Regions from separate parts of the Homo sapiens genome. Here region 2 is linked to region 1. The links come from fine-mapping of genetic effects on gene expression. Tissue or cell type: whole blood. Region 1 holds a variant in brackets; the other region holds the start of a gene. All regions are shown on one strand. Distances are between the middles of the regions. Region 1 has its middle 32 kb from the start of SERPINB9. Region 2 holds the start of LINC01011 (long intergenic non-protein coding RNA 1011).

Region 1 (13,890 bases):
AGACGGAGTTTCGCTCTTGTCCCCCAGGCTGCAGTGCAGCGTGATCTTGGCTCACTGCAACTTCCACCTCCCTGGTTCAAGAGATTCTCCTGCCTCAGCCTCCTGAGTAGTTAGGATTACAGGGGTGCACCACCACGCCCGGCTAATTTTTGTATTTTTAGTAGAGATGGGGTTTTACCATGTTGACCAGGCTGGTCTCAAACTCCTGACCTCAAGTGATCTGCCGGCCTCAGCCTCCCAAAGTGCTAGGATTACAGGCGTGAGCCACCGCGCCTGGCCTATATTTACGTAACTTTTATTACAGTATGTTATTGTAAACCAAAAATAAAATACTTTTTTTTTTTTTTTTTGAGATGGAGCTTAACTCTTATTGCCCAGGCTGCAGTGCAACGGCGCGATCTCGGCTCACCGCAATCTCCGCCTCCTGGGTTCAAGCGATTCTCCTGCCTCAGCCTTCCGAGTAGCTGGGATTACAGGCATGCGCCACCACGCCCAGATAATTTTGTATTTTTAGTAGAGACAGGGTTTCTCTGTGTTGGTCAGGCTGGTCTCGAACTCCCGACCTCAGGTGATCCGCCCGCCTCAGCGTCCCAAAGCGCTGGGATTATAGGCATGAACCACCAAGCCTGGCCCAAAAATAAAATTCTAAGCCCCCCAACCAAATGGACCCCTCCTCTCAGCCAAAGGCATTCGAAAGTAAACCTGAAACACTAGTTCAGGCCACGATGTGAAATAGGGAGGAGGGGCTCAGACATGCCTCATTCTACCTTCCTCCCGTTGGAATTCAGGCACAGCTGACCAGCATTACATTAAAACAGACCTTAACGCTGACAAAACAGACTCTATCTAGCAATTAGCTACCAACATGACAGACAACGGGCCCTGAAAGAAATTGAAGTATTTTACCCCAAAACATATTTCTTTGACATATTTTGAAATGGCCCTGCAAAGCTGCCTCTTGTGGGGAAAATCTACATTTTTGTAGATAATCTCCTTCCCTTTCCGGGTCTTTCTCCTGATCCAGGAGAGTCTGAAAAGAGACATTTACAATAGATGCTCTCTGAAGCCTGCTCGCTTCATCTGCAGAATAAGACCCTTGGTCTCCACAACACCTTATCTTAACCCACACACTCCCTTCTATTGATTTCAGGTCTTTAGATGAACTTTCAACCAGAAAATCTTGGAATCCACCTGCGACCCAGAAGCTCCCCCCTGACCACCACCACCTTGGGCACGTGTTCTCAGGATCTCCAGGGGCTGTGTCAGAGGCCACGGTCACTCACATTTGGCTCAGAACAAATCTCTTCAAATACTTTACAGAGTTTGACAGTATTTCAATTTTATTGCATATATTATATTGCATATGAGTTTAACTCATATTTTGAGTTTTTAATCTCTTACTGTACCTAATTTATAAACTTTATTATATGTATAGAAAAAAACAGTATATATAGGATTCAGTACTATCCATAGTTTCAGGCATCCACTGGAGATCTCTGAACATATCCCTTGCAGGTAAGGGGGGAAGCTGCTGTGTACTTCTATATGTGTCGCATGTGAAGCGTGGCCAAAATGGGAAATCTGAAAATGAAGGGGGAAAATGAACATAATTAGGGCTTTGTTTACTTTCAGAAATGGGGTGTTATGTTGCCCAGGCTGGCCTCAAATTCCTGGACTCCAGCAATCTACCCCACCTCAGCCTCCCACGCAGCTGGGATTACTGGCATGTACCCCCACACCCAACATGGGTGGCTTATATCTTTTTAAGTTTACTTATTGTAAGTCATGTTGGCTACAATTAAAAATATATATTATATACTTGAAAATGAGTAAGATTCAAAATGTTCTTGTAAACTGTGTGTCTTCCCCTATCTGAAGGAATTTGGGAGGAGCAACCTTGCAAGAACCTTGGTCTTTTTACACCCAGAAATTGGTTTTTGGTTTCACTGACTTCAAGAATAAAACCGCAAACCCTCAGTGAATACTATAGCTCTTAAGGCGGCGCGCCTGGAGTTGTTCGTTCACTCTCACTGGGCTCGTCGTCTCACCCACTATAGAAATGAAATTGCAACTTTCGCAGTGAGTGTTCCGTTCCTCCTAATGGGCTCGTCGTCTCACCCACTTCAGAAATGAAGTTGCAACTTTCACAGAGTCGTCTCACCTACTTCAGAAATGAAGTTGCAACTTTCACAGATGAGTGTTTCGTTCCTCCTGCCGGGCTCGTCATCTCACCCACTTCAGAAATAAAGTGACAATTTTCGCAGTGAGCGCTACAGCTCATAAAGGCAACGCAGACGCCAAATGCAAACGAACAAACCTTATCACAGCACAGAAAACCCCAACGGGTTACCACTACAAGCTCCGGCAGCCTGCTTTTATTCTTTTATCTGGCCCCACCCACATCCTGCTGATTGGTAGAACCAAGTGGTCTGTTTTGACAGGGCGCTGATTGGTGCGTTTACAATCCCTGAGCTAGACATAAAGGTTCTCCAAGGCCCCACCAGAGTAGCTAGATATAGAGTGTCAATTGGTGCATTCACTAAACCTTGAGCTAGATGCAGGATGCTGATTGGTGTGTTTACAAACCTTGAGCTAGATACAGAGTGCCGATTGGTGTATTTACAATCGCTGGGCCAGACACAAATGTTCTCCATGGTCCCCACCAGACTCAGGAGCCCAGCTGGCTTCACCCAGTGGATCCTGTACTGGGGCTGCAGGTGGAGCTGCCTGCCACTCCCACGCCATGCGCCCACACTCTTCAGCCCTTGGGTGGTCGATGGGACTGGGAGCCATGGAGTAGGGGGTGGTGTTCATCAGGGAGGCTCGGGCATGGCGGGCTGCAGGTCCCAAGTCCTGCCCCGCGGGAAGGCAGCTAAGGCCCAGTGAGAAATAGGGCGCAGCGCTGGTGGGCTGGCACTATGGGGGAACCCAGTACACCCTCTGCAGCCACTGGCCCGGGTGCTAAACCCCTCATTGCCCGAGGCCGGCATGGCCGGCCGGCTGCTCCGAGTGCGGGGCCCGCCAAGCCCACGCCCACCCGGAACTCCAGCTGGCCCGCAAGCGCCGCGCACAGCCCCAGTTCCCGCTGGCGCCTCTCTCTGCACACCTCCCTGCAAGCTGAGGAAGCCGGCTCCGGCCTTGCGTGGCCAGCCCAGAAACGGACTCCAACAGTGCAGCGGCGGGCTGAAGGGCTCCTCAAGTGCCGCCAAAGTGGGAGCCCAGGCAGAGGAGGCACCCAGAGCGACCGAGGGCTGTGAGGACTGCCAGCATGCTGTCACTTCTCACTTTGTACTTTTAAAAGGAAAGAATTCAAATGAGAGACAGGCAAGGGAACATTTATTTTAAGCAATGTGAAAGTTCATTGGAGAAAGTAGGCTTGGAAGAGGGTCAAGCAGGAGACTTCAAAAATCAAGTGCTGCTTCCGCTTTGATTTTTTTTTTTTTTTGGACGGAGTCTCGCTCTATTGCCCAGGCTGGAGTGCAGTGGTACAATCTCAGCTGACTGCAACCTTTGTCTCCAGGGTTCAAGCGATTCTCCTGCCTCAGCCTCCCGAGTAGCTGGGACTACAGGTGCTTGCCACCACGCCTGGCTGATTTTTTGTATTTTTAGTAGAGACAGGGTTTCACCATGTAAACCAGGATGGTCTTGATCTCCTGACTTCATGATCCACCTGCCTCAGCCTCCCAAAGTGCTGGAACTACAGGCGTGAGCCACCACCCCAGGCCTGCTTACAGTTTTTATACCCCTTACTCTTTTCCAGGCTGTCTCCACTCTTTGTTCTTCACCTCCCGGGCTGGCCCTCAAGTATTGCATGCCCAGTAGCCCTCCCAGTAGGCGCTGGATGGTTACTGAAGTTGTGCGCATGCCCATTAGATGCAATTCTCCCTTACTGGTCGAGCGCCCCTAGAGGAAAGTCATACACCGGGTAAATTTCACACCTTTCTATTACTGCACATGCTCAAAACCTTGTCTGGGACTGCCTTGCTAACTCCAGGTGTCTTCTGTCTGTTGCAAGACTCCTGTTATTCCCAGCGCCAGCCATGGCCACTTATTACCCTAGAGGGATAGTTTTATGCCCTTCAATCCCGGTCCCAATGAGAACCAGACAGCTCTGGGGTCCCTTCCTTGTCTTGCTCATTATTTCAGAGGGACAGATTTATAATTGTGACTGTGGCTTGACAAATGTCCAACATTCTTGGGGGCCCGTGCATGCCCTGCTCACGTCTAACCGCCTACTCTGACATTCTCATCACAAAAAAAATAGATGAGGTAATGCGTATGGGAATTAGCTTGTTTTAGCCATTCCACTGATATGGAAGGGTGTGCTCTCTTTAAATAACATGGCGGGGGGGGGAAGGGCGTGGTCCCTGGCTAGGGCTCCAACCCTGGGCCTGTGCCCACGGACCTAGTTGAGGACAGGCATTTTTGTTTTCCTGCCCCAATGTTGCACTTCTCAAGACCACCCTGGCCTGCCACGCCCCTACCCTGTGCCTGTAAAACCCTGAGACGCTAGCAGGCAGACACACAGGTGGCTGCATATCGAGAGGAGTACATCAGTGGAGGAACACACGAGCGGCTGGAAGTTGAGAGGAATGGGATGCACCAGCAGGCACCGGCATGCAGGCAGGCCATCCACCGGCAGAACAACGCAGTTTGACGGGGGCAGTTGAAGGAGAGCCCAGGTTGCCAGACTTACCTTGCACTCATTCTCCAAGCCCACATGTGATCCGATTCTTCTGGTACACCAAGGCAGGAACCCCAGGATACAGAAAGCCCTCTGTCCTTGCGATAAGGTAGGGGTCTGATTGAACTGGTTAACACAAGCCACCTATGGATAGCTAAACTAAAAAAGCACTCTAACACATGCCCAGTGGAGCTTCAGGAGTTGTAAACATTCAGCCCTAGACACTGCAAAAGGGTTGGAGCCCCACAGCCTACCTGTCTGTATTCTCTCCTAAAAGTTGGAGCAGCAGGGCACTAAAGTGAGCCATCAGCCCCATCACACATCCCGAGAGGAACAAGGGAACTTGCCCAGTTTCACTACCATGTAAGCATGTATCAAAACATAACATTGCAAAAGTCTACACAACTATTACTTGTCCATTTTTTAAAAATTCACTGCAAGTGATTTTTATTAGAGGACCTAAGACTGTCAAATCGTTCTTTAAAAATGTTTGGAAAAGATCAAATTGAATTTTTAAAATTCACAATTTAAACTTTAAATATACGTTATTCTCAAAGTACAGTTATTTGCTATGCAGTGAATTGTGCCCAGCCCCCTCCACAAATTCATACGTTGAAACCTTAACACGTAATTCATGATTTTAAACGAGAAATTTTTACAGTTAAGGTTGCTAAAAACAACCATCACCAAAAACACTGTGCTGGTGGGTTCATTGGTCTTACTGACTTCGGGAATGAAGCCACAGACCCGTGTGGTGTTACAAGTTCTTTAAAGCGGTATGTCCTCCCTTTACTTCTTTCATGGTGGGCTTAGCGATCTCATCGGCTCAAGAGTAAAGCTCTAAAACATTCAGTGAGTGTCATAAACTACATAACGCCATACGCTCCTGATAGTTGTTTAACTCTACAAATGGGTTGGTTCTATTTTCATACCTTCAAAAACAAAACCACAGAGCTTTACAAAGAATGTTACAGCTCATACAGGAAACAAAACCGAAAAACAGCACATTTACTGAAAAAAAGAGAAAAAAAAAAAAAAAAGCAAGAAGAATAACCATTTTCACTACATTGAAGCAGATCTCAGCAAACATACCACGGCTAACTCCGACAGCCTGCTTTTATTCCCTTATCTGGCCCCACCCACATCTTGCTGATTGGTCCATTTTACAGAAAGCTGACTGGTCTGTTTTACAGAGAGCTGATTGGTCCGTTTTGCCAGGGTGCTGATTGGTGCGTTTACAATCCCTGAGCTAGACACAAAAGTTTTCCAAGTACCCACTAGATTAGCTAGACACAGAGCACTGATTGGTGCATTTACAAATCTTGAGCTAGACACAGGGTACTGATCGGTGCATTT[C/A]CAAACCTTGAGCTAGATACAGAGTGCCGATTGGTGTATTCACAATCCCTTAGCTAGACATGAAGGTTCTCCAAGTCCCCACCAGATCAGCTAGACACAGAGTGCTGATTGGTGCATTTACAAACCTCGAGTTAGATTAAGAGTGCTGATTGGTGTATTCACAATCCCTTAGCTAGACATAAAGATTCTCCAAGTCCCCCCAGATTAACTAGAATACAGAGTGCCGATTGGTGTATTTACAATCCCTTAGCTAGACAGAAAGATTCTCCAAGTCTCCACCAGATCAGCTAGACACAGAGTGCTGATTGGTGCATTTACAAAACTTGAGCTAGATACAGAGTGCCGATTGGTGTATTCACAATCCCTTAGCTAGACATAAAGATTTTCCAAGTCCCTAATAGACTCAGCAGCCCAGCTGGCTTCACCTAGTGGATCTCGCACTGGGGCCGTGGGTGGAGCTACCTGCCCATCCCATGCCGTGCGCCCGCACTTCTCAGTCCTTGGGCGGTTGATGGGACCGGGTGCCCTGGAGCAGGGGGCGGTGCTCGTTGGGGAGGCTCAGGCTGCGCGGGAGCCCACGGCGGCGGCGGTAACGCGGGGGAGACTTAGGCATGGTGGGCTGCAGGTCCCAAGCCCTACCCCGCAAGAAGGTAGCTAAGGCCCGGTGAGAAATCGAGCACAGCGCCGGTGGGCCAGCAGTGCTGGGGAACCCAGCACACCCTCCGCAGCTGTTGGCCTGGGTGCTAAGCCCCTCACTACCTGGGGCAGGTAGGGCCGGCCGGCGGCTCCGAGTGCGGGCCCGCCAACCCCACGCCCACCCGGAACTCTAGCTGGCCCGCAAGCGCTGTGCGCAGCCCCGGTTCCCACCCGTGCCTCTCCCTCCACACCTCCCCGCAAGCCGAGGGAGCTGGCTCCGGCCTCAGCCAGCCCAGAGAAGGGCTCCTCAAGCGTAGCCAGAATGGGCGCCGAGGCCAAGGAGGCAGGGAGAGCAAGCGAGGGCTGCCAGCATGCTGTCACCTCTCACTGGCATCCTGATCTTCGACTTTGGGGCCTCCAGAACTGTGAGCAAATACATTTCTGTTGTTTGAGCTGCCTGGTCTATGGTATTTTGTATGGGAGCCTAAGCTCACTAAGACATTATTCTTGGTGCACATTCATACACTGTAATTCATTTCTTAACTGAATCTACCTCTTATCAAACATCACTGGTATTTTTCCTCAATAAGGTATTTTTCAATAGGATCTTATTAAGAAAATTTTTATAAATTGCACTTTATTGTCAATAAATGTAAAATTACTATCATGGTCAATTGACTCTTGTCTGTTGACCATAGGTCCTGTGTGACCTATGCAGCATGCAGGGCTCCACATTCACAGGGATACACACTTGGATGGATGTTTTACTGTCATCAGTTTGAAATTATTTGTAGTTTTCGAACAGAGGATCCTGCATTTTCATTTTGCAATGGGCCCTGCAAATTATGTAGCTGTTCCTGCTGTTAGACTAAGGAATTTTTATGGAGAAAACACTCTTCAGGAGCTGAGAGACGTGGTAAGCTCAGAGCAAATTCTAACAAATGAAGAACTGTCTCAATTCTAATTTTTCTCATATTAAAATGCACAAGTATTTCAGTCTGAATATTTCCACAGTTACAATCTTTTTGCCTGCATACAATGTGTTTCTTTTCCAAATACTTTTATCAGACAAAGCTTATCAAATGACTGACTTAAATAATCCTTTTGAAGTTTTCACCAAATTTTTGTGCAGCAAACTTTTTGGACATCCCAGTTTCACTGCATTCTAATATAGCCTGTAAATTTATCCAATTAAAAATAGGAAGTCCATCTAAAGTTTCTTCCTCCAAGTCAAGATACGCCAAAATTCAATTACAGAATTTGAGAAAGTTAAGTCCTATTCACTATTAAGCTGATGCTGTTTAATTAGTTTCTCCTTTGGTTTTGTAGAACTTTGAATATCTTCCTGTTTGCAAACTTTGTTTTCTATGATTTCAAGTAGCTAAAAGCCTCCAAAATTACATTTTTGGGTGCTTCACTCTGAATATTTTGACTATTTCTAACTGATTTTGAACAAAATGCACCTGAAATTTAGAGGACTCAGTTCAAAGAAGGTTAGTAACATTACAGAGCATTTCGGCTGATTTAAAATCGTTCTCCAAAAGAGCACACACAACTACATTTCAATTGCTCATGGGCAGCAAAGATGAAAAGCAGGCACTGCCATCAATACATCATCAATATCATATCATATTTGTATTCATCAGCAGCTTCATCACAAATATTCTGTAGGAACTATATAAAGAAAATTCATACATTTTGATAACTACAAGATGCTATTTTGAACAGAAGAATATTGCGGCTTGATTAATAAAATTCAAAATGTGTGTTCATCTTAACCAACTCCAAGGTTGTGACTCATCAAATTTGATTTGTATGAAAACCTTCCCTGATGCACATTTTAACTAATTTTTTTTTGAGATGGAGTCTCACTCTGTTGCCCAGGCTTAACTACATTTTTAACAGCATTTATTCACAACATATTATATATTTTCCCTGTGGGAAAGGGAACTTCTAAAAGCTTATTTTTAATTCTATCCATGAATTAGATGAAAACCTTACACTGCTTTTTAATTTGAAACATCTGATGAAACTTACTTGAACAAAATGAAAGTTTTTCTTCTGCTAATGCAGCCAATGCTTCCATGTATTGCTTTACTTTTTGAAAATGACAGAAATTAACTTCAAATAGCAGTCATTTGATCAAATGAACAGCCTGCTTTACAAACTAATATATAAATATATCCTCTGCAATGCACTTGATAGATTATTATCTTTGGACAGAATTTTCTTTCTTTCTTTCTTTCTTTTTTTTTTTTTTTTTTTGGAGACTGAGTCTCACTCTGTCGCCCAGGCTGGAGTTCAGTGACGTTTATCTTGGCTCACTGCAACCTCCGCCTCCCAGGTTCAGGCGATTCTCCTGCCTCAGCCTCCAGAGTAGCTGAGACTATAGGCACCTGCCACCACACCTGGCTAATTTTTGTATTTTTAGTAGAGACAGAGTTTCACCATATTGGCCACGCTGGTCTCAAACCCTGACCTTGTGATCCACCTGCCTCGGCCTCCCAAGGTGCTGGGATTACAGGGGTGAGCCACCGTGCCCGGCCAGAATTTTCTTAAAATAAGTTCTAACTTTTGAAGGAGGTGCTAGTATTTCCTTATAGATTAGCATCTTATAGTTTTTACATGGTCAGAGATAGCACTATGGTGCCACTGGTGAGTGGTAAGCAGCAACATTTTGTGCACACTAAACATTCCACCTCTTGTGATATGAAAATTCAGTACTTAATTTTTGAGCTCACTGTTTGCTAAAAGGATTTATTGCAAAATTAAAGTATAGCCAAACAGGCTGGGTGCGGTGGCTCTTGCCTGTAATTCCAGCACTTTGGGAGGCCGAGGTAGGTGGATCACCTGAGGTCAGGAGCTCGAGACCAGCCTGGCCAACATGGCGAAACTGTGTCTCTACTAAAAATACAAAAAATTAGCCAGTTACGCTGGCGGGCGCCTGTAATCCCAGTGCTCAGGAAGCTGAGGCAGGAGAATCGCTTGAACCTGAGAGGCGGAGGTTGTGGTGAGCCGAGATGGTGCGACTGCATTCCAGCCTGAGTGACACAGTGAGACTCTGTCTCAAAATAATAAAATTAAGTAAAAAAGTATAGTCAAACAATAAAATAAATGGCTGTAGATTTTCCTATATAATGAATAACAAAACCACTGTAGCAAGAGAGTTTGGGCTTATATCTATAATAATTTATAGCCTCTATTTCCTCTATTTAAATATGCCTCTATTTTTATATAGCCTCTATTTAAATATGCCTAAATTATAGTTTAAACTGTGTACCTAAACTATACTTTTCCACGTTTCCAACTGACTGCCAAATGATGGCTTCTCAAAAGCCACAGCACGAGCCACATTACAACCCAGTGGCTGTCAGGGGAAAGCAGTCCCAAATAATTATCTCCACAGTACTAGAGTCCAGAAGGACGTAGCTGTCCCTAGCTGCTTGTGAACAAGGATTAAGTTGTTTTATCAGTGAGTGAGTTCCTTATGTCCTGTCCTTGAAGGGGGAGACTTCTGGAAAGGATCAGACTCACAAGTTGCCTGTCAGATTTAACCAAGATTAAAGTGAGCATCCTGCACCTGCTGAGTCACTTAGCAATTGATTGTCTCTTGGCTCTAGAGCCTCCTCTCATGTAACCCTGGAGTTGCTGTCACTTCCCTAGATGGCACAATGCTACGCTTCGTCACTAGAGGGTGCCAGTGAGACACTGCCAGGAAAGCCCGGTAGAAAGACACCTGTCGTTCCCAGTTCTGGTTCTCCTGTAACCACTCAGTGCAGGGTCCAGCAGCCCACACAGACCATCTCTAGCCTCATTCTCATGTTTTCTCCATGCAACAGCCATTTCTGCAGTCGCAACAGCTGCAACCTCAGGCAGCTGTGTCCCTACCTGGCCTTTTGCTTCTGCGGACGGCTCTGGCCTGCCACACCCTCTGGCAATGGCAGACAGCTCCTGGTGGCCCACTCTGACCCATGCACTCTGCCAGCAGCAGCTGCATGTTTCTGTGACAGCTGCATCCTCTTCAAAAAGATCTGAGTTTCAGCCCGAAGTGTGTGTGGGGTGGGGGTGCGGTAAAGGTCTCCTAACACTTTAGTCTTTCCTCATCCATTCTCACTGGGCCTGTGGGTAACAGCTGCCCCTTTTTCACATGCTGCGTCTGTGCCCCTTTTCCTAACAATCCTTTATATTCTCCTCTGTTCACATAGCTGATGTGGCTTTGTCTCCTGAGTGGACCCTGACAGGTGTAAGTGTAGTGGGAGCTCACAGTACAAAGTAAAGACCTGCCAACCCCCCTCCTGTAGCTGTTACTAACAACACTTCATTGAAAATGAAAAGCCTGTGACAAATGCTGACCCAGGCAGGACACCAAGGCAACAGGTATAACTGGGACTGTCCCAGACAAGCCATGCTGTATGGTCATCCTGCTGACATGCCATATTCCAAGAGGAGATGAGGATTAATATTTCCTATTTAATTTTCCTGTCTGCATTGCATGCAGTCAGAGCACCCCAACAAGGAATGGATACATTTAGAAGACAAACAGGCCTCCCTAACTGCCACCCAACTCCTTGTCATTTAATACTTCCAGGTAATACCCCTGGAATTAATAGGGTTTCTCATTCGACAAGGCACTAAGGAGACGCTAATGGCAGCTTCCAGGTGGGATCATGTCCGAAACACATGTTTCTCTCACAAGCTCCTTCAAACAGAAAAATCCGACAAACTAATTAATATGACGCTTTTCGAATTGAGGTCCACCGGGTTCCACACATTCCTGGGTCAGCAAGCATTCTCCAACATTTCTCTTCAGTGGCCTGCTTTCATTTGCTAATGATCTTTGAAAAGAGGGTTGGTTAATTTGATATTTACATTTTTTTTTCTTTTGGAATAGCAAGAATTCCAAATGTAATGACCTGTTCTGTGAAAAGTGGCGATTAGTGGAATACCTAGCAAATATTTTTGAAAAACTGTAATGGATTGCCTTTGTAGGTAAAGATGCATCTTATTGAAAGAGGGTGGAATGATCATTTTAAAACATCTATTTGAAAGTTTTTCTTTCCCTTGTTAAATGATGTTATTGCTACAAAATGATGTTAAAACTCATATACTTATTTTTAACACTTGGAAATGTAATTTTATAACCTTTAAAAAACTCTTCCAAGGGCTGGGCATGGTGGCTCAGGCCTGTAATCCCAGCACTTTGGGAGTCTGAGGGGGGCAGATTGCCTGAGCTGAGGAGTTCGAGACCAGCCTGGGCAACACAGAGAAACCCCGTCTCTACTAAAATACAAAAAATTAGCCCAGCGTGGCAGCATGTGCCTGTAATCCCAGCTACTTGAGAGGCTGAGGCAGGAGAATTGCTTGAACCTGGGAGGCGGACGTTGCAGTGAGCTGAGATCGTGCCATTGCACTCCAGCCTGGGCAACAGAGCGAGACTCCATCTCAAAACAAAAACAAAAACAAACAAAAAACTCTTCCAAAAAGAAGAGGTTTGGTTGGTTTCAAATAATTAAAAATATAAATATATAAAATCTTAAATATTATAATTAGACATAGATTGACAATCAAACATCAAGGCTTAGTAAGCTTTTATCAATGTTTTTATTTTATTTAAATCAACCCATATAATCCCAGTGCTTTGGGAGGCTGAGGTGGGAGGATTGCTTGAGTCCAGGAGTTTGAGCCCGAAGCGAGCTATTGTTAGGGAAGCGGGAGCCCAGGAGAGCCAGAATAACGCCATTTTAAGTTCAGCTTCATCTTGAGACTAATGAGGCACATTCTTTTCCAGTCACCACCCATGGTCATAAGATATTTACACTTAAGGAAACAGCTTAAAGACACCTGCAGGGACACAGTCCTACAGCAACAGAAAGTCAAGATGTCCCAATGCCCATAGCAATATATGCTTTCAAGATAATTATTGTTTGAGACTCAGTCTTGCTCTGTCGCCCAGGCTGGGGTGCAAGTGGTGTGATCTCAGCTCACTACAACCTCTGCCTCCTGGGTTTCAGCGATTCTCCTGCCTCAGCCTCCCTAGTAGCTGAGACTACAGGCGCGCATCACCACGCCCGGCTAATTTTTGTATTTTTTAGTAGAGACGGGGTTTCACCATCTTGGCCAGGCTGGTTTTGAACTCCTGACCTTGTGATCTGCCTGCCTTGGTCTCCCAAAGTGCTGGGATTACAGGCATGAGCCACCATGCCTGGCTGCTTTCAAGATACTTGTATTTATGCTTTTACGTACATACACACTAAAACTAAAAACAAACAAAAAAACAAAACACAAGGATAGTTTTCTTTAAATCAACAGAATAATAAATTTTGTCATGCCTTCAGCCTACCCACACATAGATGTGGCTTAGCTTAGCTTTTACATAAACAAGACCTGCTACATAAGAAAAACTTAAAGATGAGTTCCTCCTCTTGCTTTCTGAGGACACTGTACTCTGTATCTGAGTAGCTTTCAATAAACAATGTCTTCTCACTGCACCCTGAGACTTGCCTTGAATTTCTTCCTGCATGAGATCCAAGAACCCTCTCCTGGGGTCTGGATCAGGACCTCTTTTTCTAGTAACACTATGATCGCACCACTGCAGTCCAGCCTGGGCCACACACTCTTGTGGGTTTGTGTGTAATTGTGTGTTGTGTATGTGTCCGGGAAATTGACTGTCTTTTTTTAATTAATTTATTTTTTTTTAATGGAGTCTTGCTCTGTCGCCCAGGCTGGAGTACAGTGGTGCGATCTCGGATCACTGCAACCTCCGCCTCCCAGGTTCAAGCAATTCTCCTGCCTCAGCCTCCCAAGCAGCTGGGACTACAGGTGCGCACCAGCTCTGGTGGTGTATTTTCAGTAGAGACAGGGTTTTGTCTTGTTGGCCAGGCTGGTCTTGAACTCCTGACCTCAAGTGATCCACTTGCCTCGGCCTCCCAAAGTGCTGGGATTACAGGCGTGAGCCACCGCGCCCAGCCAAGTGAATGTCTTTTGTGGGCACCAGACAGCGGGATTGGCTCCTCTCAAGTGAGAAATTCCAAAGGAATTTTTGTTTGCATATTGATCAAGCCCAACCAATGGAGACAGGAAGCACCAGCTGGTCCAGCTGCTTCAGTTTGGACACTTGGGGCTTGTTTGTTGCTGCATCAGTTGGATTGTGTTTTGGGGATTGTTTGGTGTGTGTCGATACAGTCATGGGAAACCTGAATCTGATAAACTGATAT
Region 2 (16,905 bases), 51 kb before region 1:
ACTTTAGTCTTGCATGTGGAAATCCATTTCTCTCACAGCATATATTAAAGAAACTATTATTTCATCATTGAATGGACTTGGCACTCTTGTCAAAAATTCACTGGCCACAGATGTATGGATTTATTGAGGATCCCTTGTACATCTCTTGCAGCTTTTAAGATTCTCCCTTAGTCTTATACAGGCATATCTGCCTTATTCTGCTTCTCTTTATAGTACTTCCACAGATGTTGCATTTTTTTTTTTTTTACAAATTGAAGGTCTGTGGCAATCCTGTGTCAAGGAAGTCTATGTTTATGTGATCAATATTATTATCAATTATTGTATTGTGATTCCTCAGAAAGGTTACATAATCTATTGACACCTCTAGCATGGGATAGTGACACATATAACAGATACTGACACTCTGTCCATCACTGAACTGTGTGTGGATTGATCAAAGCAATCTTTGAGTGAGTCTAGTTTCCCCTCTGGTAGGACCTACTTAGACGGAGATAAAATATTTTCTCACCGCTTACATTAATCTAGATTTAGATATAGTTGTCCTCCTGTATTTGTGTGTTCCATATCTGCTGATTCAACCAACCTCCAATGGAATATATTTGAAAGAAAAAGCAATACAACAATAAAAAAATACAAATAAAAATACAGTGTAACAACTATTTATATAGCATTTACATTGTATTAGGTACTATATGTAATCTAGAGATTATTTACAGTATATGGGAGGCTGTGCAAAGGTTATGTGTCAATACTATGCCATTTTATATCAGGGATTTGAGCATCTGTGGATTTTGATATATTTGAGGGGTCCTGGTCCCAGTCCTCCATGAATACCCAGGATTGACTATATATTTTTGGATGTTAAATCACCTTGCAGAACTTGAAAAAAAAGTTATCAAGTAAACAATCTCCAGGTGAAATAGTCCATATCAGTACCGTCTTTCAAGTATTAGTTGTTTATCAGTCAGATTACTATTAAGGCTGACATAACTTTGATCAGACCAAGTTTCTGAACAGTTCATATCCCTAAACTGAACATTAGTTCCTCGTTCTCATGCAACACATAGCCCGTTTTTCTTTGCACATTGTCTGATTTTCATATGTGCTTGACACTTAATAATTTTAAGTTCCTATGGCTTTACTAGTGCGTAGGAAAGATTTTCAACTGTATCATAGGACTTGTGAAAATGGAAAGAATGGAAAATGTAAGACGAAGTGTAGACACTAAAATCTTAGACTCAACACCCTTATATCATATGGCCTTCTTCTAAGGAGTGTAGGTTCCTGTCTTAGTCTGTTTTGTGTTGCTATAAAGGAATACCTGAGGCTGAGTAATTTATAAAGATAAAAGGTTTATTTGGCTAATGACTCTGAATGGTTGGAAAGTTCAAGGTTGGGCATCTGCATCTGGTGAGGGCCTCAGGCTGCCTCTACTCATGGAGGAAGGTGAAGGAGAACTGGAGTGTGCAGAGATTACATGGCAAGAGAGTAAGCAAGAGAGAAAGGAGGGAGGTCAAGGATTGTTTCTAACCACCAGCTCTGGAAGAACTCACTCACCCCTGAGGGAGGGCATTCATCTATTCATAAGGATCTGGCCCTGCAACCTAAACACCACCCATTAAGCCCCACTCCAACATTGGTGATCACATTTCAACTTGAGGTCAGGCTTGGCGGTGCTCACCTGTAGTCCCAGCTACTCCAGAGGCTTAGGTGGGAGGATTGCTTGAGCCCAGGAGTTCAAGGCTACGGTGAGTCACAAACACACCACAGCACTCCAGCCTGGGTAACAGAGCGAGGCCCTTATCTATGAAAACAAGAAAAAAGATGAAACAAATTTCAACATGAGGTTTGGAAGGAACAAACATCTAAATCACACAGTAGTTCCTGACCTGAAGCTATTGTCACATTATTGATGTGTATAATTTAGAAATATGTCATTAATAGCCAATACTCAGATCTAGAAAACTAGTGGACAAAGCGAGTGCTTTAAAACCAAAGTGGCATTTAAAAAAAAATCAAACCTACTGGTTTTCCTACTAAGTAAGTCTTGAAATAATGCACTATAGAGATCCTGTCTTATCTATACAGCTAGAGAGAATAACAAATTTTACTTTTATCAGTTAAATAAATTTTGTCTTAATATGACTTATTATTTATATTTATCTTTTTACATTTCAAAAACACTATGTTATTCAATTGAATGACTTATAATTTTTGAGTTACCTGGTCACTGTATTATCATTGTCAGTTATTATATTTCACATGCATTACTTAGTAAAGACAAATCTTGGGGCCGGGCACGGTGGCTCACACCTATAATCCCAGCACTTTGGGAGGCCAAGGCGGGCGGATCACGAGGTCAGGAGATCGAGACCATCTTGGCTAACATGGTGAAACCCTGTCTCTACTAAAAATACAAAAAATTAGCCGGGCGTGGTTGCAGGTGCCTGTAGTCCCAGCTATTCGGGAGGCTGAGGCAGGAGAATGGCCTGAACCCGGGAGGCGGAGCTTGCAGTGAGCAGAGATCGTGCCACTGCACTCCAGCCTGGACGACAGAGCGAGACTCCGTCCCAAAAAAAAAAAAAAAAAAGAAAAATCTTTACCAAGGCCTGATTTCTTGAGCATATTGATATAATATATAGTTAAACATGTTATTGATAGACAAGATGTTTCTCAAGAATATTATGTTTGTGCAGAAATTACCACATAAAATTAAATCCTTCTTTTCGGCTGACTATTTTTTAAAAACTTAGGCTGATATTAATGAAAAAACTGAAACCCAAATGAAGCCTGGAGTTAATAGTAATGTACAACGTTGGGACCTTAGTTTCCACAAATGTATCTGTTTTACTTTAAGATCTTCAAGATGCGGAGCACCCCTACAACGATTAGGAGAGACACAGGCTAGAAATAGTTTATTACTTACAGATCCTGGGGCACATGGCATACTTGGAGGCCACCTTCATGGAAATCAGGGAGTGCAGGCAGAGAGACCAAGACAGCAACCCATGGGCCAACACCTTTATTGGGTCCAGGGTGTTATCCAAACAGGTTTCCCATGGGGAGTTTTATTCGGTGGGTTTACAGCAAGCAGGCATGAGTTCCAGGAGGTGGCACAGTGACTGAGTGGTGGGCCCTGTGGCGCATCTGCACATTCTAGGTGGGGTGTGAGGGTCAGTGTGGCCAATAGGTTCTAGCTGTGCCATAGAGAAGTGGTCAACAGGAGATAGTTGTATGAGGCAGATATCTGGATCCACCACATAACAGAACTGGGAGAAGGTGGAGAACCAGCAACTTTGTCCGGGGTGACTGAGCCTTGATTTTGGTGTGGGAAAGTCCAATGTATATTCAAAATGGATGTGGAGGCAACCCAACATAAGAATTCACAACACTACCATGGTGATATGTTACCATTAGGGGAAACTGTGTTAGGGGAATATGGTAACTACCTGTATTATCTGACTTTCCTGTGAATCTAAAGTTATTCCAAAGTAAAAAAAAAAATTGTATTAAAAAAACTATTATAAATAAAAGTTTAATGACACTAAAATCCCTGCTTTAAAATCTTATGAGCTAGCAGAGTACATTTCTAACTTATATGTTATATGTGCTGTTAACTATGAGAAGATCTCCCCCAAAATCATGTTTTTCTAATTTCTTATAAAAATACTAATACAAAACTGCTTATTGACTGCATCTCATCAGCTGTTATTCTTTTAGACTGATTGAATTATTCTAAGTTGCTTTTCCAGATTCATCTAATAAAAAGAAAGATTGGATCTGACATGAACAGTGTATAAATTAGTACAAGAAAGTCTCTTTTCTGAATCAAATCTTGGTCCTACAGTTTAGGATTTTATTTATTTAATTTACTTTGAGACAGGGTCTCATTCTGTTGCCCAGGCTGGAGAGCAGCGGCGCTATATCTCAGCTCACTGCAACCTCCGCGTCCCGGGTTCAAGCGATTCTGGTGCCTCAGCTTCCTGAGTAGCTGGGACTACAGGTGAGCGCCATCACACCCGGCTAAATTTTTTATTGTATTTTTAGTAGAGACAGGGTTTCATCATGTTGGCCAGGCTGGTCTCCAACTCCTGGCCTCAAGTGATCCACCAGCCTCAGCCTCCCAAAGTGCTGGGATTACAGGAGTGAGCCACCATGCCCAGCCTAGTTTAGGATTAAAAAATTGTTCTATGCCTTAATGCCAAAGATAGAACATTGTAATAATTATTTTATTACAATTTATGTAATTATTTTAATTATTTTATGTCTTTAAGAAACAATTTGCCTCTGTCATATCTCACATTAAAATGGAAAAAAAAATTCCTTATGTTTGTGTTCTAACAAATTAAAAGTTGTGTATCATTGTGAATTCAAAAGAGAAGCAGGTAACACATGAACTGGGATCATGGAAACCAAACCAGAATAAAGCAAGCCCAGCACAATACTATCTTGGAGGCTGACCAGTTAGAAGGTCTTAAACATAATATATTTTAAACAAACAGTTAAAGGAAAAAGATTAACCTAGTGTTGTAACCGAGCGAGTTACAGAGAAACGCCACACTCTGAGACGAATTCAGGAGTCCTTTATTAGCCGGCAGCCGAGAGACAGCTAGCGCTCGAAATTCTCTTGGCCCCGAAGAAGGAGCTAGATTTTCTTTTATACTTTGGTTTAGACAGGGGAGAGGGGGAGTCTAGTTGAAACAATCTTACAGAAGTAAAGTAGGCAAAAAGTTAAAAGGATAAACGGTTACAGGAAAGTAAACAGTTCCAGGTGCAGAGGCTTTAAGTCTATCCTAAGGTGATGGACGCCGGGCTTTGGGCGTTATCAACCGGACACAAACGCAGGGGCTCTGGGTGCTATTAACCGGGCGAATTCCTGGGAACTGCGGATATAGCTTGCCACAGTATCTTATCAGTTAATTGCATTCTTGATGTGCTGGGAGTCAGCTTGCACAAGTTAAGTCCTTGAGGAAGGGGGTGGGTAAGGGGCTGCGAGTGAAGGAGTCACGATGGAGTCCGTCTGGCTCTCTTAGCTAAGGAAGAGTCACTTCAGGTTAAAACAAGGTAGGGTATCCCACTAGAAGCCTCACATCATTAAGCTTCAGTCAGGCAGGCATTCCTTTAAAAAGTGTTTACTGAGTACCTTCTCTATGTCAGTCACTATTTGGGGCATAAAGGACTCACTTCTCCGCAAAAACAAACTCTGATCCCCCGGTCTCCTCGAGTCACGGAGCTTGCAAGCTAGTGGGAAAAATTGGGAACTGGTGCAAAGAATGACTGCAAAATAAATTGTGGTCATCTTGAAGACATATGCGTGCATGTGTGCGTGAAGCTTTTTAAATAGAGAAGCTTTAAGTGGGGGAAATTTGCTGACATTACACGATTTCTTCTCTTAGTGCAAATGTATACAGCCTGTCTTTTTGAAGGGGTCACGGTAGATAATTATGCTCTGTTAACCTCATTTGTTGTCAGGGAAAATTAAAACTAAGGGTAGTGTCAGTAGGAATCTTGGTTCCTGCCAGTTTTGTTGTTTGTTAGCATATCTTCCTTTACAGGTAGTATGGTTTCATTTTCGTAAAAATGCTGCATAAACGTGGCTGGGTATGTTACTCATTGCAGTGCCTGCTGATTTCGCTGGACCCCACCCTGCTTTTGCTGCCCAATGCGATAGCATATGGGACAGAGCTAAATTCCTACTCAGCTGTAACTCTGCTTATTTTCAGGAAAAAGAATGCCTGTGTTTCGAAGTTCCTTCTTAGGACGAAACCAGCTGAAGCTGGCGAAATCCAAGATGGCGCCTCTGAAGAGCCTCTGGCTTTATCATCATCCTGTTCTCATGCTAAACAACATGTCGCCATGACAACGACTGGAAGAGACCAAGAAGGGACAGAAAAAAAGGGGTTTCTTGATTCCGGGAAAAATCTCCGTTCTTTCCCAAGGAAAGCACGAATATTCCCCCCCGTGCTCTTAATGCCCAGCCCCTTCATTAAAGACACCCTACCTCTGAAACTTCCCAGCTCTCACAAGCTAAGTTGATTTCAGATCTTCCAATTCCATAGCCATTGAATACAGCCTGCACTGCTTGACACACTCCCTTTCGGTTTCGTGCATTGGCCTCACCACGCAACAGGAAACAACCCTTTTTGGGATAACCGGGACTCCCGGTAACATTTCCATATATACATATCTTAATGTATGCAAGGGCGTCTGGGGGAGAAAGAAGCAGCACATTTCATTCTTTGCTTTCTATAATACTGGATTGCTTGAGTTTGTGACACATGTTAACATTTGCAACATTTTTAAACTAAATTGTATGTATTATAGAACAGTCCTCTGCGCTGAGCTTGGACTTAAAGTGGAAAGGCTTACATTTGCAGAATTAAAAAAAGCATCGAAACATTCTGTGGCAGGAAGTCCTGCGAGCCTCCTCGCCCCAGCCCGGTTTCCCGCGGGCCCCAGCCTCATCCCCCAAGGCCCCACCCTGAGAGCCCCCAGGTCCCAGCCGCGTCCTCCTGGACCCCTCCCAGGCGTGGCGAGCCGGGTCGCGGGAGCGCTCCGCCACCAGGGGACAGTGCGGCGCCGACCGTGGGCTGCTGGCTCGGCCGAGGGCACCCAGGCGCCCTCCGCTGCAGCGGGCTGGTTGCAGAGGGGCGGGCTCTCGCCAGGCAGCAGGCGCTCCGGGCGCAGCTGGGAGGAAGGAACGCCCCCGGGAGTGGGCGGCGGCCGAGGGACCCTGCAACCGTCCTCCCTGGAGGAGGCCCCCGCAGCTCCCGCAGCCCCCCTCATCCCGGACGGGCCGGGGATTGGGACTGGCCTGGGGTCTCCTACTCTCCTACTCCGCGCAGGAAGTAGCCCCTTGGCAGGACCGGCGGTGCCTGCTGCTTTCAGGAGCCCCGAGCCGCTTTTGTCTGGGTGCAGCTCAGCTCACATCCCCGATGCAAGTCTTTCCCGGCTCGTCTCCCCTTCTTCCCGGAGTCCATGCCTTGCTGTCGGTGACTCATCCCACACTGTGCCCTGCGACTCACCCTGTCGCTTTCTCTGTTCATCCGGGAGCGCGGCGCCATCTCCCTCCAGCCCCGCCTCCCCTACAGTGCTCCGTGCTGAGGTCGCACGTTCTCTCCTCCCTCCAGCTCCCTGGCTCTTGGCCCTTCCCAGGCCACCAGGCGACAGCAGCCTCCGCCTTCATTTCCCTTGGTCATTTCAGGCGCATGCTTGGAGGATTTCAGGATCTGACTCAGCTTCCCCGCCATGCATCCCTCCACCAGCATCCAGTCACACCTCTGCAGCCTTCAGTGTCCTGGAAAGGACTGACCAATCTGACCCATTAGAACCTACCCAGACCAATTTGAAGGCCACTGCCCCTCAACCGTGGCCACCCACTCCTGCCCCACCTGGAGCCCCAAACTGCTCAGTTCCTTCTCTAAAACTCTGCCCTCTTTTGTTTGTTGTGAATAACTGTCTTCCCTGGTTCTTTCCACACCTCTCTGGCCTCTCCTTGTCTTTTTCTGGTTCTTTTTTTCTCTATTCTCCCTTATGCACTGGCCTTGCTGGAGGTCCCTGCTCTCCCTGCAAAACCTCACCACACCCTTGACTTCAGCTATATCCATTTCACCTCACGTTGACATCTGGTGCCTAGACCTCTCTCCCGAGCCTTCCACACCATGCCAAAAATGAAATTCATTTTCTCCTCTAAATTTGCTCACCTTCTTGTTTTCCCAATCTTATTTATTGTCACAGCCATTCCCCTGCTGGTCCAAGTCAGTAGTCTGAGAGTCATGCTAGACTCCTCCTTCCTTATCTACCCATCCACCAATCCCCAAGCCCTGTCTATCCTCCTTTTTTTTTTTTTTTTTTTCCAGTCAGAGTCTTGCTGTGTTGCCCAGGCTAGAGTGCAATGGCACGATCTCGGCTCACTGCAATCTTTGCCTCCCGGGTTCAAGTGATTCTCCTGCCTCAGCCTCCTGAGTAGCTGGGATTACAGGCGCATGTCACCACGCCCAGCTAATTTTTGTATTTTTAGCAGAGATGAGGTTTTGCCATGTTGGCCAGGCTGGTCTTGAACTGCTGACCTCGTGATCCGCCTGCCTCTGCCTCCCAAAGTGCTGGGATTACTGGCATGAGCCACTGTGCCTGGTCATCTATCCTCCTTTTTAAATAGCTCTGCCATGTGTGCCTGTCTCCCCTGACAGCTCACCCTCATCCTATTTGTCCACATTGCTGCAGAGTAGTCTCTTCCATACACCAGGAGTTCCCAACCCCCGGGCCACAGACCTGACTGGTCTGTAGCCTGTTAGGAACCAGGACACACAGCAAGAGGTGAGCCACCAGTGGGTGAGCTAGTGAAGCTTTATCTGTATGTGCAGCTGCTCCCCATTGCTTGCATTACCACCAGAGCTCTGCCTCCTATCAGATCAGGCAGCATTAGATTCTTATAGGAGCACAAACCCTACTGTGAACTGCACACATAAGGGATCTAGGATGTGCGCTCCTTATGAGAATCTAATGCCTGATAATCTGCCGTTGTCTTCATCACCCCCACATGGGGCCAGATAGTTGCAGGAAAACAAGCTCAGGGCTCCCACTGAAAATAAAGTGCACAAGAAGTGTCATGTGCTTGAATCATCCCGAAACCATCCTCTGCTGTCCAAGGAAAAATAGTTTTCCACAAAACCCCTCCCTGGTGCCAAAAAGGTTGGGATGGTTGCCATACATAACTCTGATGATGAGACCACGAAGCTCAGAATCCTCCAGAGGCTCTCCACTGCCTGTAAGATGAAATAAAATTTATGGGTGTGACTTATCCATAAGGGCCCAGTCTAAACTGCCTCATATTTAATTATATAGTAAGCTATTTGTTTCCTCAAACGTATATATTTTGGCCCATTTCCCAGTCTCCTAGGTTGGAATATGCTCTGTGTGTCACCTGGCCAGCTCATGCTCTTTCTCATTCTCAGCTCAAGTGTTAGGGACTCTATGACACCTTTCTTGATTCTCCCAGTCAGACATATTGTTGCTACTTTTTCTTAACACTTATCCTTTTATCCTTGGCACCACTAAAGCACATATCACATCAGATTTCACTTGTTTGCACATCTGTCTGGCATCTTGAGCCCAGGGACCGTGTCGCCTGTCTTCATGTCCCCAGGCCCTAGTGTAGCTCCCAGCCTATAGTGAGTGCAGAATAAAAGTTTGTAGAATGAGGCCAGGCGCGGTGGCTCATGCCGGTAATCCCAGCACTTTGTGAGGCCAAGGTGGGCAGATCACGAGGTCAGGAGTTTGAGACCAGCCTGACCAACATGGTGAAACCTCGTCTCTACTAAAAATACAAAAAATAGCCGGGTGTGGTGGCACGCGCCTGTAATCCCAGCTACTCAGGAGGCTGAGGCAGGAGAATCGCTCAAACCTAGGAGGTGGAAGTTGCAGTAAGCTGAGATCGCGCCACTGCACTCCAGCCTGTGCAACAGAGTGAGACTCTGTCTCAAAAAAAAAAAAAAAAGTTTGTAGAATGAATGAAACAATTAGTTACACCACAGTTAGTGAGTCATCGATACTTCATCAAGGCTGGGTATTTCGTATAATAAAGTTATTAAAGCTGATAAGCAAAGATCAAGTTACCCAAAGAACAGCACTGCCGGTGATCTAAAGGTCTTTGCCCTCAGGTTGCTTAGGTAACGGAAAGGATAAGAACTCCCCACTGTTCTGGGGCGGATCTTACATTGCTTTTGGAAGAGGCAATAGACTTGGGAAAGAAAGGAGTGTGTGTATTGAGGTATTGAGGGAATGGTTAGGTGGGAGGAGTCAGAGAGGAAGGCTGCAGTAGCCCCTCAGTCGACCCTGGCTGCTTTGTCCTTGGGGCTCAGTGAACAGATTATCTGTTTTCATGGTAAGGGGTTGGGATTCTCTACTTCAGGTGGGCACCCAGAAAGTGAATTGCTCGCCTTTGTTTAAAAATAATGAAAATGGGCCGGGCGCGGTGGCTCATGCCTGTAATCCCAGCACTTTGGGAGGCTGAGGCAGGTGGATCACCTGAGATCAGGAGTTTGATACCAGCCTGGCCAACATGGTGAGACCCCGTCTCTATTAAAAATACAAAAATTAGCCAGGCGTGGTGATGGGTGCCTGTAATCGCAGCTACTCAGGAGGCTGACACAGGAGAATCACTTGAACCCAGGAGGCGGAGGTTGCAGTGAGCTAAGATCTTGCCACTGCACTCCAGCCTGGGCTACAGAGCAAGACTCTGTCTCAAAAACAAACAAACAAAAAACCCAAAAATAATGAAAATGTCTGCCCACCCTTCACTAAGTAAACATAATGAAAATGCACATCTTGTGCCCTCTTTTGCTTTTATTCTATAATACCCAAGCCTACGTTTTGGAACTAAACCCCACGCCCTTTGTGTGAAAGCCATGCGGATCTTCAAAGGGATCTCTTTAGGGGGAACATTAAGTTTGCCCAAGGAGGCACCCTTCTGGGTCTCCAAGGCCACCTGGCTGCAATGCAGTCCAATTCCAGCCTCTGTCTCCCAGAGCACCCCCTGTGCCAGGGCGGCAGGATCCCAGGGGTGTGTCTACCATGGCACCAGACACACACTGGCTGAATGTAGCCTCGTCATCGCTGAGCCCTGTTCACAACCATTTTTGTTTTCGTGCTTTTTCAGTTTTAGGAGCTTTGTTGTATCCCTGGTCAAAACTACTCTGGTGAAGCTCACTAGGTGTCTCTAACTCGGCACCTGAGGAGCAGTTTTCCTGAGCTCCTCATGCAAATGGACGCCACTCCCTTCGGCAAAGTCCTGGGAGCTCAAGGGAGGCTGCCCAGTCAGCTGCGGCCCATCCCAACGCATTGGGGACCTGCCCACCTGGCTCTTAATTTGCATTTTGAAATGTCACCCAAGTGATTCCAGACCAGATAAGAAGATGAGCTTCTCTTGTTATGGAAAAAGGAAGAGAGACAGAGAGAGAAACCTCTGTTTTGTTATTTAGCTATTCCTCAAATTCTTATGACCAGTGATGATATTTTTTAAAAAATCTCCAGAACAACACAATTATTTAAATTTAACTCAGATTTTATTTTAATTTATTAATTTATTTATTTTTGAGATGGAGTCTCGCTGTGACACCCAGGCTGGAATGCAATGGCGCAATCTTGGCTCACTGCAACCTCAGCTTCCCGGGTTAAAGCGATTCTCCTGCCTCAGCCTCCCAACTAGCTGGGATTACAGGTGCCTGCCACCACGCCTGGCTAATTAATTAATTATTATTATTTATTGAAACGGAGTCTCACTCTGTCACCTGGGCTGGAGTGCAGTGGTGTGATCTTGGCTCACTACAACCTCTACCTCCCAGGTTCAAACAATTCTCCTGCCTCAGCCTCCTGAGTAGCTGGGATTACAGGCACACACCACCATGCCTGGCTAACTTTTTTTTGTATTTTTAGTGGAGACAGGGTTTCATCATGTTGACCAGGCTGGTCTCAAACTCCTGACTGCAAGTGATCCGCCTGCCTCGGCCTCCAAAAATGCTGGGATTACAGGCATGAGCCACCGCACCTGGCCTTAACTCAGATTTTAAATATGAGAGTATCAACTTGTAGGGGTGGAAGAGGTGTGATGCCTCTCCTTACACATTGTATGGGTCACAGCCAAGGCTCCTATCTCAAAAGACACAGTCCCACCTCCAGCTCCAGTTCGTCTTCTCATTCATCCCAGATAAGTTTCTTGAAAGAGTATTCTAAGACAACTCTCTCCATGTGTCTCCAGGCCTGGATCTGCCTCAGTTTTTGCTCCTCCCATCTATCGTCCCTTGGTAACTAACGACTTGGGAATGAGAAATGCCCTTTTCAATTCTGACTCTCCTCTTCCTCTCAGCACCAGCAGCGGATGCTGACCTGGTTCTCTGTTTCTTCTGTCTTCTCCTTCTCTGTCCTCTTTGCCATGTGCTCCTTTTCCAGCTGTCTTTTAAAATGTTTGTTGCTGGATCAAGGAGTTTCTCCCCCAGCTTCATTTAGCATCGATAGCTCTTACCTTTGTCGTAATTTCTACCTGTCCTCTGGACATCTTCACCTAAATGTTCACCAGCACTCTAAGCCCCTTTTGACTCAAACTGATTATCTGACCCCTAAATCTGATCCTCCTCCCCCTATATACTCTTTCATGTACCCAGTTCTCTGAGTTAGAATAAATACAAACCATCTGGAACTGTAACTCTGCCCTTCTCTCTCAAAATCCACTTGTTCAGTATAGTCTATGATTTCTGCCCCCTAATTAGCTCTCTGCCTCACAGACATCACCATTGCCAGTGCCTGGCTAAGGCCCAAATTACCTGTGTTCTGGGCTCCTGAGGCCAATTTCTAAACAGCTCCCTGCTGTCACTGTCTTCTGCACCCTGCCCATCCTAAGGCCTGATGCTGGAGTTGGGAAGGAAGAAAAGAAGGAAGGTGTGGTGTGGTGGCACATGCCAGTAGTCCCTGCTCTGGAGGCTAAGGCAGGAGGATTGCTTGAGCCCAGGAGGTAGAGGCTGCCGCAAGTTATAATCACACCACTGCACTCCAGCCTGGACTACAGAGTGAGACGGGGGTTGGGGCGGGGGAGGGAGGAGGAAAAGAAGAAAGGATGGAAAAAAGGGGGCAAGAAAGGGAAAAAAGAGAAAGCAATCCTCTCCTCTCATTAAAATCCTGTGCTGGTTCCCCAATGTCTGAGGGATAAAACCCAAATTTCCTAGAATGGCACAAGGACTCTTTCCCAGCCCATCCCTGACACACCATCCAGCCCTACCCTACCTCCCTGGGGGCCTCTCCCCAGCCCACACCCTTCTCTCCTCCCTTAAAGCACACTCACCCTTTGCCCCTGTGGGCTGTCACACTGCACCTTTCTGTTGCCGGTGGTAATAAATAAATAAATAAATGATTTGATGATCCATGATACTTATTAAAGCATAGTAAAGAAGTCTTTATTCAGGACCAACTCAATAGGGTTAGAAACTGCTGTAACAGAGTCTTGTAGTGCAGGAGAGAGATTGGGCTCAACCAGAAATACAGCCTGAGGAAGTGGGGATTTATAGCCAAGGAGCAGGGTGGGGTCAGTGGATGGAAAATGACTAAGAGGAGACATCAGGGGTCAGAGGGATTCTGGCTAAACCGACCTCACAGAATTCTTGCGGAAGGCAGGTCAGGGTGATCAGACAGCCCCTGGGAGGCGGTGGAGGATGAGGTGCCTGATCAGATATCAAGGGTGATTGCACAGTGAAACTGGGGAGTTCTTTGCTAAAACTAGATTTTACATGGAAGTGCACAGGTAGACCTAATAGAAGTTTCACAAACCTGACTAATGGGCCAGGCGCAGTGGCTCACAACACCAGCACTCTGGGAGGCCGAGGTGGGTGGATCATCTGAAGTCAGGAGTTCCAGACCAGTCTGGCCAACATGGTGAAACCCCATTTCTAGCAAAAATACAAAAATTAGCCAGGCATGGTGGTGCATGCCTGTAATCCCAGCTACTCGGGAAGCTGAGGCAGGAGAATTGCTTGAACCTGGGAGGCAGAGATTGCAGTGAGCCAAGATCACAACCTTGTACTCCAGCCTGAGTGACAGAGTGAGACTCCATCTCAGAAGGAAAGAAAGAGAGAGACAGAGAGAGAGAGAAAGAAAAAGAAAGAAAGAAAGAAAGAAAGAAAGAAAGAAAGAAAGAAAGAAAGAAAGAAAGAAAAAGAAAGAAAGAAAGAAGAAAGAAAAAGAAAGAAAGAAAGAAAGAAAGAAAAGAAAGAAACCTGACTAATGTTTGGCCAAGCTAGGAATCTTTGTCACTTGTTTGTTCTTTCTCAGCTCTGGAAAATTACTCTTCCTACGAGACTGAGCTCAGCTGAGGCCCCAGGGAACACATCCTGAGGCTCACAGAGCCGTTCTTCCTGGCTTCTGTTCTCATGGGTGCGTGCATGCCCTGTTAGAGCAGGCACATGCCATTCTGTGGGCACAGTGCCTTTCCCAGCCATCTGAGCGCCTGAAAAAGGAAGGACCATGCTTCCTGCAATTCTATTTCTCAACTCTCTGTGATCTGATACAATGCTTGTGCAACAAAGATTAGTGCACGAAGTTATGGGGAACTAGTCACTAGTTTGTCTCATAGGGTTTTCCAGCTCCGTTACTTAGTGAGGGAGGGACTTCAAGTATATGCATTTGCCGTGGGGAGGGTTTACAAATTCCAGGTGTAGGAGAGTGTGGCCTGGTTACATTTCTGGGTCTTTCACCCACCTCAATGAACTACTTGAGTTGTATGAGTGGGAGAGGCAAGTCCATGCTGGACTTGCCTCAAAATTCCAGGGAGCAGGGAGCAAAGCCAATATTAGGCCTAGATTGAAGGACCATGGCTTTACCTCAATTCGAGGTCTACTCTCATATGTAAGAGGAGAAAGGCTCTAGCACTTAGTCCCTGCAAATCTGGAAGGAAAGCTGGGGAGAGACCACCCAGAAAAGTAAGTTCCAGTGTCTCTCAACCCTCCACTATGATATTTCAGAAAATAAGGCAGGTTGTTTGCTCTAGTCCCAGAAAATTCTGGAAGGAAGCTAGGCTCTTTGCAATAAATGCAGGAGCAGGGAGCATGGTGGCTGCTCTCATAAGCTAGGGATGGTGCAGGGAGTGGAGCTTAGGGTCTTCCCCAGCCCGTCCTTGTAGAGGAGACACAGAGAAGCCTGGGGACTGCTTTGGGGTTGGATGCTCATGGCTGGTGAGAAGCAGAGCAGCCTGTCAGTAGCCCCTAAAGTGTTGTTCCAGAAGCTTTCCCGGGGCAGAAAAAATTGGGAAGTCAGTCTTCAAAACACTTTTCTCTTAGGAAAGTGGGTCACCACCTCTCAGAGGAAGAGAGTGCATCTTTTATTTGCCTATTGCCTGTGGTCTCATCCGATCTCTGTTCCTTGTGTCTTGCACCACTTTGAACAGCATCTTATTTTAAACTCTCCTCCTTGACTTCCTTACACTGGCAGGAAAGGTTACATGCATTTTGTCTGTATTCATGGCCTCGTAACAGGTTCTCTGCTGCCTGCCTGCTAGGTGTCCTTTAGAAGTGATCCATGACCCAATCAGGTTTACCAAGCGAGTCACTGGGAGTGGCTGCTACTATTTTTTTTTTTTAAATAGGCCATCAGATATGAGAGCTAGAAAGTGTTACCAGAAAGGGGTCCCAATCCAGACCCCAAGAGAGGGTTCTTGGAACTCTCACAAGAAAGAATTTGGGGCAAGCCTATAGAGTTAAGTGAAAGCAAGTTTATCAGAGAAGTAAAGAAACAAAAGAGTGGCTACTCTGTAGGCAGAGCAGAGGCAAGAGCTACTCAACTGAGTGTACTTATAGTTATCACTTGATTATATGCTAAACAAGGAGTGCATTATTCATGAGTTTTCCGGGAAAGAGGTGGACAACTCCCAGAACTGAGGGTTCCTCCCCTTTTCAGAGCATATAAGGTAACTCCCTAACATTGCCATGGCATTTGTAAGCTGTTCTGGTGCTGGCAGGAATGTCTTCTAGCATGCTAATGCATTATAATTACTGTATAATGAGCAGTGAGGAGGACCAGAGGTCACTTTGGTCATCATCTTGGTTTTGGTGGGTTCTGGCTGGCTTCTTTACCTCAAGCTGTTTTATCAGCAAAGTCTTTGTGACCTGTATCTTGTGCTGACCTTTTATCTCATCCTGTGACTAAGAATGCCTAACCTCCTGGGAATGCAGTCCCGTAGCTCTCATATTTGATGATCCATGATATTTATTAAAGGATAGCCTTAATTGACCTACCCATATTCAAGATGGAGTAGGTCTGGTTCAAATGCCTCTGACAAAAGTATAGAAACATTGCTGATTGGCATTGCTATATATCATTTGGATAATTTTTCTGTTGTTCCTAGGAAACATTGCAATGTTTACTATTGTTGATGAAAAGAGGTAAACTCTGTAAAATATTTGAAAAGATTTATTCTAAGCCAAATATGAGTGACCAATGACTCCTGACACAGGAAATCCTCAACCCTAGGAAATCCTGAGAACATGCGCCCAAGGTAGCTGGGCTACAACTTGGATTTATACAATTTAGGGAAACATAAGACATCAATCAATACACGTAAAATGTATGCAGCTTCGGTCCAGAAAGGCAGACAACCGGAAGTGGGGGCTTCCAGGTCATAGGTGAATTCAAGAATTTTCTGGCCAGGCATAGTGGTTCACACCTATAATCCCAGCACATTGGGAGGCAGAGGCAGGAGGATCAGTTGAGCCCAGGAGTTCAAGACCAGCCTGGCAACATAGTGGGACATTGTCTCCACAAAAAATAAAAAAATTAGTCTGGCGTGGTGGCATGTGACTGTAGTCCCAGCTACTTGGGAGGCTATGGTGGTAGGATTGCTTGAGTCTGGGAAGTCGAGCCAAGATCATGCCACTGCACTCCAGCCTGGGCAAGAGAGTGAGACCCTGTCTCCAAAAAAAAAAAAAAAAAAAAAAAAAAGTTCTAATTGGCAATTAGTTGAAAAGGGTTAAGTTATTATCTAAAGATTTAGAATCAGTAGAAGGGAATGTCTGGGTGTCTGGGTTAAGATAAGGGGTTGCGGAGACTAAGGTTCCTATCATGCAGATGGAATCAATAGAAGAGAATGTCTGCGTTAAGATGAGGAATTGTGCCTGAATTCCAAAGGCACGTGGGTGTAATGAGAACGAGGCATGTTTGTCCTCACTTTTCATCATGGCCTGAACTAGTTTTTCACACTAACTTTGGAATGCCCTTGGTGGAGAGGTCCATTCAGTTGGCTGGGGTACTTAGAATTTTATTTTTGGTTTACATTATCTATAAGGAAAACAAATTTGGTGTAGGTAGTTGCCTAGGAACTTATGTCCTCTGTTGGAGGGCAGGGGTTCTAGCTCTGGACCAATCTCAATG

Evidence for each region.
Region 2: LINC01011 starts here. The variant in region 1 is fine-mapped to the expression of LINC01011 in whole blood (TOPMed, PIP above 0.99).

Annotation. Positions count from the first base shown.
Region 1 is chr6:2,928,839-2,942,728 of GRCh38, reverse strand. No RefSeq gene overlaps it. Among named protein-coding and RNA genes, the nearest start is that of SERPINB9, 32 kb to the right of the region's middle. RefSeq lists an enhancer at 13,281-13,890. The variant C/A (reference allele first, on the strand shown) is at 6,041.
Region 2 is chr6:2,978,830-2,995,734 of GRCh38, reverse strand. It overlaps LINC01011 (long intergenic non-protein coding RNA 1011), which reads right to left and starts at 7,768. Exons shown (of 3, transcript NR_026856.1): 1 at 7,704-7,768; 2 at 6,002-6,207; 3 at 4,564-5,866. NQO2-AS1 (NQO2 antisense RNA 1) reads left to right here. Exons shown (of 2, transcript NR_186367.1): 2 at 5,724-6,399. RefSeq lists silencers at 1,638-1,822, 6,404-6,823 and enhancers at 4,589-5,396, 5,674-5,833, 5,397-6,206, 6,207-7,016, 7,017-7,826 and 1 more.